2 linked regions of the Homo sapiens genome follow. The protein of the gene in region 2 interacts with the protein of the main gene of each other region in a pairwise test. Each region holds a gene or a part of one and is shown on either strand. Other genes may lie near its edges.

The links.
Region 1: the proteins of MAPK11 (region 2) and SETDB1 interact in binary tests that used the Homo sapiens proteins (3 or more experiments, as listed by UniProt).

The regions. Positions count from the first base shown.
Region 1 is NC_000001.11:150,931,904-150,936,986, reverse strand, and holds part of SETDB1 (histone-lysine N-methyltransferase SETDB1), read right to left. Parts: intron 1-5,083. UniProt on the Homo sapiens protein: Histone methyltransferase that specifically trimethylates 'Lys-9' of histone H3. H3 'Lys-9' trimethylation represents a specific tag for epigenetic transcriptional repression by recruiting HP1 (CBX1, CBX3 and/or CBX5) proteins to methylated histones.
Region 2 is NC_000022.11:50,262,461-50,268,211, forward strand, and holds the end of MAPK11 (mitogen-activated protein kinase 11), read right to left. Parts: intron 5,490-5,751; coding exon 5,360-5,489; intron 5,168-5,359; coding exon 5,109-5,167; intron 5,023-5,108; coding exon 4,911-5,022; intron 4,827-4,910; coding exon 4,797-4,826; intron 4,715-4,796; coding exon 4,667-4,714; intron 4,589-4,666; coding exon 4,474-4,588; intron 4,152-4,473; coding exon 4,080-4,151; intron 3,846-4,079; coding exon 3,766-3,845; intron 3,201-3,765; coding exon 3,122-3,200; intron 3,035-3,121; coding exon 2,861-3,034; intron 2,568-2,860; coding exon 2,488-2,567; 3' UTR 1,253-2,487; downstream 1-1,252. UniProt on the Homo sapiens protein: Serine/threonine kinase which acts as an essential component of the MAP kinase signal transduction pathway.

The sequences.
Region 1 (5,083 bases), on a different chromosome or scaffold from region 2:
TACCCAGCTAATTTTTGTATTTTTAGTAGAGATGGGATTTCGCCATACTGGCCAGGCTGGTCTCGAACTCCTGACCTCAGGCGATCCACCCGCCTCGGCCTCCCAAAGTGCTGAGATTACAGGTGTGAGCCACTGTGAGCAACCTACAAATTTTTTTTTTTTTAAATCAGGCAGGCGTGGTGGCACTTGCCTGTAGTCTCAGCTACTTGGGAGGCTGAAGTCGAAGTGAGCTATGATAGCACTACTGTGCTCCAGCCTGGGTTACAGAGTGAGATACTGTCTAAAAAAATATATATCAAATAAAGTTGAGGTTTCTATATCCTAAGAACTAGTGACTCTCTTACAGTATATACACTAAAAAGACTCCTGCACATGTGCATCAGGAGACATGTACAAGAATATTTGCAGTAGTGTTATCTGTAATCTCAAAAAATGTAAATCAATGTCCACAATCAGGAAAACTGATAAACTGTGGCATATTCATACAATGGAATACCATGCTGCAAAAAGCAAATAAGCTAATCATCATGCATCAACACAATGTTGAAGAAGTCAAAGCCAAGGGAGACGTCAGAACTAAATGTAACTCTGAATGCATTCGCCTCACTAGCTAAACTATTCCAAAAAATAGAAATAAAAAAGTCAATACTTGGAAGCCAAGCTAAAAAATTAAAAGTTAAAATAAAAAAACTGAACAGAGGCCTACAGGGTGGCTCACGCCTGTAATCCCAGCACTTTGGGAGGCCGAGACGGGCAGATTACGAGGTCAGGAGATCGAGACCATCCTGGCTAACATGGTGAAACCCTGTCTCTACTAAAAAAATAGAAAAAAATTAGCCAGGCATGGTGGCGGGCACCTGTAGTCCCAGCTACTCGGGAGGCTGAGGCAGGAGAATGGTGTGAAACCGGGAAGTGGAGCTTGCAGTGAGCCGAGATTGCGCCATTGCACTCCAGCCTGGGCGACAGAGCGAGACTCCGTCTCAAAAAAAAGAAAAGAATAACTAGGATATGGAACTCTCAGGAAAATAAATTAAAACTCAGAGTTGCTAGATTATCTAAAAGTCAATATTCAACAAAAAGATAAGAGACATGCAAAGAAACATGAAAGTGTGACCTACACTCAAGACAAAAAACCCTGTCAATAAAACTGACTCTCAGTGATCCCAGATACTGGATTTATAAATATGCTCAAAGAACGATAGGAAATTAAGTTAAAAGGTTAAATGAAAATATACTAATACTTAATCAACAAGAGAATCTCAAGAGAAACTGAAACTATGAAATAAGGAACCAAATAGAAATTCCAGAGTTGAAAATGCAAAAACTGAAATGAAATACATATTAGAGGGGCTAAGTGGCAGAGTCACAACAGGAGTCAATGAACTAGAATATATAGATACCCATATAGAGAAATTATCCAATCCAAAGCACAGAGAGAAAATTGAAGAAAAATGAACAAAGCTTCAGAGACTTGTGAAAAGATGAATGTCAAGCATTCCACCATATATGTAATGGAAATCCCAGAAAGCAGGGAGAGACAAAAGGGAACAGAAAAAAAAAACCATGAAGAAATAACAGATGAAATACTTCCAAATTTGGTGAAAAACTTGAATCTACATACCCAAGAAGTTAAATGGACCTCAAGTAGGATTAAGAAAGAACTTGGATACATCCCAGTCAAACTAACACCAGAAGACAAAAAGAAAACCTTAAAACCAGCAAGACAAAACTGACTCATATACATGATACAAAAATAATTTCCTCTGACTTTCCATCAAAAATAATAGAGGCCAGAGGGCACAGGGATGGCGTATTTGAAGTACTGAAAGAAAACTCTGTCAATCAAGAATTCTATATCCCAGGTAGGGCCGGGCACAGTGGCTCACGCCTGTAATCCCAGTACTTTGGGAGGCCAAGGCGTGTGGATCACCTGAGGCCAGGAGTTTGAGACCAGCCTGAACTACATGACGAAACCCTGTCTCTACTAAAAAGACAAAATTAGCCGGGCGTGGTGGTGCACACCTGTAGTCCCAACTACTTGGGAGGCTGAGGCAGGAGAATTGCTTGAACCTGGAAGGTGGAGGATGCAGTGAGCTGAGATCTCACCACTGCACTCCAGCCTGGGCAACAAGAATAAAGCTCTGTCACAAAAAAAAAAAAAAATTCTATATCCTGGGTAAACGAAGATTGAGGGAATCCACTGTCAGCAGAACTGTACTGCAAGAAATATTAAAGGAAACCGTCTGGCTGGAAAAACATGACACTGGATGATAACTCAGATCCACAGGAAGGAATGAAGAGCAACAGAAGTGATAAATATCTGGGTAAATACATATTTTTCTTTTCTTCCCTTACCTTCTTTAAACATGAGACTGCTTAAAGCAGTAATTATAACACTAGATTATTGGCTTTAAACATGTAGCTATAATATATTTGACAATAGTATCACACAGGAAGAGAGTGAAAGTAGAAGTATGCTGGTGCAAAGTGGCTGTGTATATATATATATTTTTTGAGATGGAGTCTCGCTCTGTCGCCCAGGCTGGAGTGCAGCGGTGCGATCTTGGCTCACTGCAAGCTCCGCCTCCCAGGTTCACGCCATTCTCCTGCCTCAGCCTCCCAAGTAGCTGGGACTACAGGTGCCCGCCACTACGCCCAGCTAATTTTTTTGTATTTTTAGTAGAGACGGGGTTTCACCGTGTTAGCCGGGATGGTTTCGATCTCCTGACCTCGTGATCTGCCCGTCTCGGCCTCCCAAAGTGCTGGGATTACAGGCGTCAGCCACCGCGCCCAGCCAAAATGGCTGTATTTTTACCAGAATTAAGTCAGTATTAATTTGTAATAGATTATGATTAGGTACAGATGCAACCCCTTTTATGAAAGCTAAAAAAAAGAAAAATCAGGGGCCGGGTGTGGTGGCTCACTCCTGTAATCCTAGCACTTTGGGAAGCCGAAGCAGGTGGATCACCTGAGGTTGGGAGCTTGAGATCAATCTGACCAACATGGAGAAACCCTGTCTCTACTAAAAATACAAAATTAGCCAGGCATGGTGGTGCATGCCTGTAATCCCAGCTACTTAGGAGGCTGAGGCAGGAGAATCGCTTGAACCCAAGAGGCGGAGGTTGCAGTGAGCAGAGATCCTGCCATTGCACTCCAGCCTAGACAACAAGAGCGAAAACTCCATCTCAAAAAAAAAAAAAAAAAAAAGAAAAAGAAAAAGAAAAAGAAAAAGAAAAAGAAAAATCAGAAGAATGACAGTGGTTTTCTGAAATGTTTGTTTGACTTTAAGAAGGCAACAAAGAAGAAATAGGGCTAGGCACAGTGGCTCACGCCTGTAATTCTAGCACTTTGAGAGGCTTAGGTGGACAGATCACCTAAGGTCAGAAGTTTAAGACAAGACTGGCCAACACAGAGAAATCCTGTCTCTACTAAAAGTACAAAAATTAGCTGGGTGTGATGGCGCGTGCCTGTGGTCCCAGCTACTCAGGAAGCTGAGACAGGAGAATTGCTTGAACCCAGGAGGCAAAGGTTGCAGTGAGCAGAAGTTGCAGTGAGATCATGCCACTGCACTTCAGCCAGGGCAATGGAGCAAGACTGTCTCAAAAAAAAAAAAAAAAAGACAAAATAGGCCAGGCATGGTAGCTAAGGCCTATAATCCCAGCACCTTGGGAGGCCAAGGCAGGAGGATTGCCTGAGCTCAGGAGTTCGAGACCAGCCTGGGCAACATAGTGAGACCTTATCTCTACTACAAAAAAAAAAGTTAGCTGGGCGTGGCGGCATGTACTTTTAGTTCCAGCTACTCAGGAGGCTGACGTGGGAGGATCACTTGAGCCCAGGAGGTTGAGGCTGCAGTGAACTATGATCATGCTATCACACTCCAGCCTGGGGAACAGAGTGAGACCTTGTCAATCAATCAATTCATTCATTCATTCATTCATTCAAAAAGACTAAAATTATACAAAGTATATTCTCTGAACACAATAAAATTAATTAAAAATTAACAACAGAAAGATATCAAAAAAACCCCAAATATTTAGAAATCAAACAACCACAAGGAAAATTAAAAATGATGCCAAGTTTAATGAAGCTGAAAACACAACATAAAAAAAGTATGATATCCTGAGAGTGACACTGTATGGAAAAAAATTTATGAGATGCAGCAAAGCAATGCTTACGGGGAAATAAATAGCTTTAGAGCTTATATTAGAAAGGAAGAAAGGTCTAAAATCAATCCTGTAAGCTTCCACTTTGAGAGGCTAGAAAAAGAAGAACAAATCAAACCCAGTAAGTAAAAGGAAGAAAATAAACATCACACTGGAAATATATTTAATGTGATATCCTGGATTAGATCATGGAACAGAAAAAGTCCAGAAGCTGAATAAAGCCTGAAGTTTATATAAAAGTAATATACCAGTGTTTGCTTCTTAGTTTTGACATATGTACTAGATGAGGGATATATAGGAACTCTATTACTTTTTCAATTTTTCTATAAATCTAAAATTATTCCAAAATAAAAGATTTTAAAAATCCACAAAGAAAAGTCCAAGCCTAAATGGCCTCAGCACTGAATTTATCAAACTTTTTAGGAAGAAATATCATTCCATACAAACTCAGAGGAGGGAACACTTCTCAACTCATTTACAAGGCCTATATTACCCTGCTACCAAAGCCAAACAAGGACACCACAACAGAACTATAAACCAATAGCCCTCATGAAACAGATGTAAAAATTTTTTTCTTTCTTTTTTTTTAAAAAAAAAAAAATTAGAGAAGGGGTTTCACCATGTTGCCCAGGCTAGTCTTGAACTCCTGGGCTCAAGCAATCTGCCCAACTCGGCCTCCCAAGGTGCTGGGATTTCAGGCATGAGTCACAGCATCCAGCCAAGATCTTTTTTTTTTAAATCAGCAAATCCAATCCAGCAACATATAAAAAGAATTATACATCAAGACCAAGGCTGGTTTACTCCAGGAATGCAAGGTTGGTTTAACATCTAAAAAAACAACTACTGTAATACATTCTTAATATGATAAAAGACAAAAGGAACATAGGAGAATGATACAGAAAAAGCTGACAAAATCCAAA
Region 2 (5,751 bases):
GTGGCTGCACTCTCTCCAGCAGGGATGGGGACCTGCTGGGGCCCTCCGCCTGACCCCTCTGTGTGGGCATTGTCCTCCCATAGGTCTGGCCCCATCCTGGACCAGATGCTCCTGAGGGCAAAGCCCCACCCTGACACCCCTTCACCAGCCCAGGAACCTGGATCTCAGAAGGGATGTTGGGGCACCCCAGGAGCCCACTGGGCTGGTGGGTAACAGGATCCCTAGGGCCTTCTGCCCCGCCCTCCTGCCATGAATCAGCAGCTCAGCCGCTCAAGGGTGGTAGTAGCTTTACACCTGGGCTTGGGCCGTGCTCCACGGCATTCACCAGCTCGTGACCAGTGAGCGGGGCAGCCCAGGGCCACCCAAACCACAGCTGCCTGTGGCCCATACCCTTTGTGCCCTGGGCTGCCTGTGGCACTCCATCCACCTCTTCCAGGAAGCCCAGCTTCCACGCTGTCCCCCTTACTCCCCGTGGTGGGGCTCAGGGGTCCAGCAGGCCCTGCACGGACCAGGCTTCTGAGGTGGGGCTGTGTCACCATTCTCCTCCCACCCCCAACCGCCAACACTGGACTTCCCCCGGGATTGACCACTACACTGACCAGGCCCCAGGAGGCCCCCAACTCCCAGACGGTTTCCACCCCTACCCAAGACCCAAGCAAGGGCACAGACTGTCCCTGGTCCTTAGAGACACTGCCTGACCCCAAATGGCCTGGACCCTCCCCCACACATAAGCTGCAGCGCGTAGTGGGAACGGGACCAGCGTGCACATTCCCTGGGTTAAAGTGGCCTCTTTTTCCTTCACCAGGAGGGAAAGGAAAGCTATTTTCCCTACCCTGCCCAGCCCCCACCCAGGGATGGGCAGACCCTTGCTCCTTGAGACACCCAACTTCTCCCCAGCCAGCTTCCCTGAACACTGAGGGGTAGGCGGGGGTGGTGTCTGGATCTTGGCCCAAAGCCAAGCCTGCCCAGTACATCCCCACAGGGCAGCTGGGGTCACCATCTGGGTGGCTGTCACACCCTGTGCCCTCAAAGTCTGCCCATCAGCCATGTCTTCCCCTGGTCCCCCTGGGCTCTCAGACCCTCCAGGGAGCAGGGAGGGTGCCAGAAGATGGCCGCTGGTCTGACTGGGGGCCTGAGGGATCTGGCCAGCTGGAGGTGAGTGATGCAGGATGACCCAGACACTCCCCCCACGCCCAGCAGCAGGGATGGTGGGGGCACCCGGGCCTGGAGTAGCCTTTGGATACAAGCCAAGTGAGAGAGAACCCCCTTTATTGTGCACCCCTGGTGCAGGCACTTGACACCCAGGCTTCCCTGGGCCCCTCGAGGCAAGAGGTCACCCCCTTTCCAGGGCAGAGCCACACCCCCAACTCAGCTCTGGGCAGGGTCCCGTCTCCGAGGTTACTGGATCAGCTCCATCCTGGGACAAGGAAAGAGGACTGACCCACAGACCAGAGCACCTCAGATCTCCGGCTGCAGGGCCACAACGGTGGGCAGAGGTAGAGAGCGGGCCAGGGTGCAGGGCAGAAGTGTCCGAGTCCAAGTCCACATCCAGGTGTGCTGCCTGCCCTAGCGTCCTCAAGGCCAAACCACCCACCCACCCACCCCCAGCCTCAGGAAGCTGCTGTGGGTCCCACATCCAAGGAGAAAGCCCCTGCCCATGCTCATGTGGTTGCCCTTTGGCCCACTGGAGCCGCCAGTCTGAAACACCCCTCAAGGCATCAGGAACCGAGGAGAGGGAAGGCAACAGCACACCCACCCCGGCTCCAGCTTCTTGCCAGATATGGCTGCTGGCCTTGGGCGCCCACAGATTCACACGCACCACATCACATGTGCCCTGACATATGAACACGGGGAGTGCACGCTCATCCACACGTGCCCACACACACCCACGGGTGAACACAAGACTCCAGGCAGCTTTTCTCATTTGACACCTGGTGGTTGTCCCTGCCCAGCCTGGTGGCACACTGGCTCTGCCTCTCCTCTTAGACCTGTGGGTCTCAGCAGTGACCAAGACAGCCCCCTACCTCCAGGCTGAGCAGCTCTAACCACTGAGACCTCTCCCTTTGAGTCTCCCGGGGTCCCGGCCCCAGCGCGTCCTCCAGAAAGCCCTGGGACAGAAGAGAGCCCAAGGCTGACACTCCCTTGGGTCGGCCTGGGACAGACAGGGGAACTCCGCAGGGGAACCCCTTTGGCATCTAGGACCCCACAGTCAGGTCCCAGTGGAGAGTGCAGTAGCCAGAAGAGGACAGGAGGACCAAGGTAGGCCCAGGGACACTTGTGCCCAGACTCCTACACATGGCAAGCACATGTACACACATGTTTGTGCATGCATACATGCGTGTAGATTCTCCTGAAGGCGAGGGGTCCTAGGCCAGAAGTCTGTGACCATAGGAGTGTGGGAGGTGCCTCTCGAGGAAACCAGGCCAGCTGTGGAAGGGTGCAGGCCCAAGCCCCTCCACAGGCTCTCAGGGGCTGCTGGGCAGCACCTCACTGCTCAATCTCCAGGCTGCCAGGTGGCTTCGGTGGCTCTGGGGGCTTGAAGCTGAGGACTTCCTGGTAAGTGAGCTCTAGGAGGTGAAGGGAAAGGGTGAGCTTGTGCCTCCCACAGCCCGGCCCCTCACCTGCTTGTCTGGCACCTGCCACCCAGCCCAGGCCCACCACCCTGTGACAGCAGCCTCAGCACAGTCTGGGAGCCAGAACCTGCCCTGTGTCACTCCTCCGCCCCGCTCCCAGCCTGTGCTGGACACCTGAACGCCCTTCCACACCTGACCAGTCTGGAGAGGAACTGGGGCATTTCCTGCCTCTGGGGAAATGGAGCCCGCAGGCCCCTGGACCCACCCCCAGCCACTGCCATGCTCACCCTTCCACTCCTCCAGCGTGCGCTCCTTGGCCTCAACGCTCTCATCATATGGCTCGGCCTCTGGCTCATCCTCGGGGTCGTGGTACTGGCTGAAGTAGGCGTGGGCCAGTGCCTCAGCTGCACTGACCCTCTGGTCACTGTCCAGCACCAGCATCCTTCCAAGGAGGTCTATGGCTGCAGGGAAGCCAGTGGTGGGGAGGGGGGTCAGCTGTACATCCAGGGCCAGATATGGAGCCCAGTCTAGCCCAGGGCAGTCCTCACCCAGGGGGTTGGCTCCACGGAAGATGCTGCTCAGGTCCTTCTGGGGCATGGGGGGCAGGGACTGGATATATGTCCGGGCCTGGGGGCACACAAGAACACCTGGGGAGGCTGCTCACTCTCTGCCTCCCTGGCCCCAAACTGGGGCTTCTCTTGGCAAGCCCCCAGACTCATTCACTCCAACAGGCCAGGACAAGGGCACAGGCAGACCAGTGACCCCCTCCATATAGGATCTGGTGGTTCTAGCTCCTCAGTTGGCCCCTAATGCCTGCAGGAGCTGGGTCCAAGTACACTCCCTCCACCCAGCCCACCCCCACTGCCCTGGCCAGGCACTGCTTGCTGGGGTCCCCCAGCCCACCCCCACTGCCCTGGCCAGGCACTGCTTGCTGGGCCCCCAGCCCACCCCCACTGCCCTGGCCAGGCACTGCTTGCTGGGGTCATGGCTTTGCACTCACTGTCCCTGGTGTCAGGAATGTCTTCCCCCTTCTCCTGTTTCCCCTGCAGGGATTGGGCACCTGCCCTAGGCTCTATCCCACCACATCCCATGTTCCCCATATGGTCCCCGCATTTCCACACCACCCTCTCCCCCAGAGAGCCTGGGGGCTCAGCCAGGAGAGGGAGCTGCTGGCTGGCGGGCACCAACTCACGTGTTCTGAGGAGATTTTTGCCAGAACCTCAGGGCTGGGTGTGCCCACCACTTCCATGATGCGCTTCAGCTGGTCAATGTCTGTGTCACTCAGGAAACACCCACGGGCCAGCCACAGACCCCTCCTGGGCCCCCAGACCCAAAACTTTGGGGCGCTGCCCAGAGCCCGCTCTCCTATAGGTGAGGATGGCCAGCCCAAAGTAGCATAGCATGGGGGGCAGAGGAGGCAAGACCCGCCAGAAGGGGCCAGCGCTGGTCCCTACCCTACAGGAGGGGCCCTGTTTGACCCTGCTCCCCAACCTGGGCCAAGGATACAGTCGCTTCCCGGGAAGAGGGCCTTGCCCTGGAGCAGCTCAGCCATGATGCAGCCCACGGACCAGATATCCACTGTGCGAGGGCGAGGGGACCTCCATCAGTGTGCCCACCCCACGTCCCTCCTCCAGGAGACCCACAGTCACATCCAGACCCCAAGATGGGCAGACCCCCTCCTCTGCCATACCCAACCCCCCTAGGCAGGGGGAGGTCCATAGCTGCACAGCCAGAGGAGGCCAGCACCCATCATGCTCTAGCGGCCTCTGAAGGGCTACTTTTGAATGTGGGTCCCACATTCTTGGGGACCTTGCCTGCCCCCTAAGACCTGGCATGCAGAGCCAGTCGAGGGCCAGACGAGGCCCTTGGCCTTCGTCCCCCCAAGGCCTTCCCCCTGCACCTGTTTGGTTGTAATGCATCCAGTTGAGCATGATCTCAGGTGCCCGGTACCAGCGCGTGGCCACATAGCCGGTCATCTCCTCGTCCGCCTGGCGCGCCAGCCCAAAATCCAGGATCTGGGGCGACCACGTGGTGTTCTCAAGCTCCGCACGGGCTCCGCCGCCGCCCTGCCCACCCCTGCCCACGGGCCTCACCCTGAGCTCACAGTCCTCGTTCACAGCCACGTTGCTGGGCTTCAGGTCCTGCAGGTCACGCGGAGCGTGAGCACAGGAGGCTGGGACGGAGCCCTGCTGGACCCGACCCTCACCCTGCGGTCGCACCTACCCGGTGGATGATCCCGGCCGAGTGGATGTACTGCGGGAGGGGGATTGTGGTGAGCGCCGGGCCCGGCCCGCCCGCCCCCCTGCGAGAGGACCCGCGAAGCCCAGGGCGCCCCACCTTCAGCCCGCGCAGCAGCTGGTAAACCAGGAATTGAACGTGCTCGTCGCTCAGCGCCTGGCACTTGACGATGTTGTTCAGGTCGGCGCCCATCAGGGTGGTCACCAAGTACCTGGGGCGGGGTCAGGGGGTCAGGACAGGGCCCCACCGCCCCACCGCGAACGCGCTCCCCGCTGCCTCGCCCGCCCCGCCGCTCACACTTCGCTGAAGTCCTCGATGGACGTGGCCGGCGTGAAGACGTCCAGAAGCCCGATGACCTAGGTGGCGGGGGGCGTCAGGGCCGGGCGACGAACCCCCGGCTGTCGTTCAGCTCCCCCCGGGCCACGCCCCCAGTGCCAGGCCGCGCCCCCTGTGTCCCCGCCCCCATCGCCAGGGCTCGCCCGCCTATTGGCTGCGCCGCGGCCCCGCCCCCGCACGCGCCCTCCCCCCACGGCCCTCCCCCGGCTCACGTTCTCGTGCTTCAGGTGCTTGAGCAGCCGCAGCTCCCGGTACGTTCTGCGCGCGTGGATCAGCGACTGGAAGGGGCGCGACAGCTTCTTCACCGCCACCTTCTGGCGCAGCCGGGCGTCGTAGGCCGAACTGGAAGGCGGGCGAGTGAGGCGGCGCCGGGAGGGGTCCGAGGGCGGCCGCACGCGCGTGGACCCGGGCGGCGTCCCTCTCGCCGCTTCTCCGTGGGGATGGGGCCGTGGGGCTTTTCTGCCCCGGCCCCGCCGCCCCAGCTCGGCCTCCCACCCTCGGGCCTACCCACTCCGCGCTTGCTGGGAAGGAGCCCCTGGGGCTGGACCACCATGCGTGTGTTCACCCCACAAGGTCCTGGACCTTCTCTGTCCCCTGGCCCCAC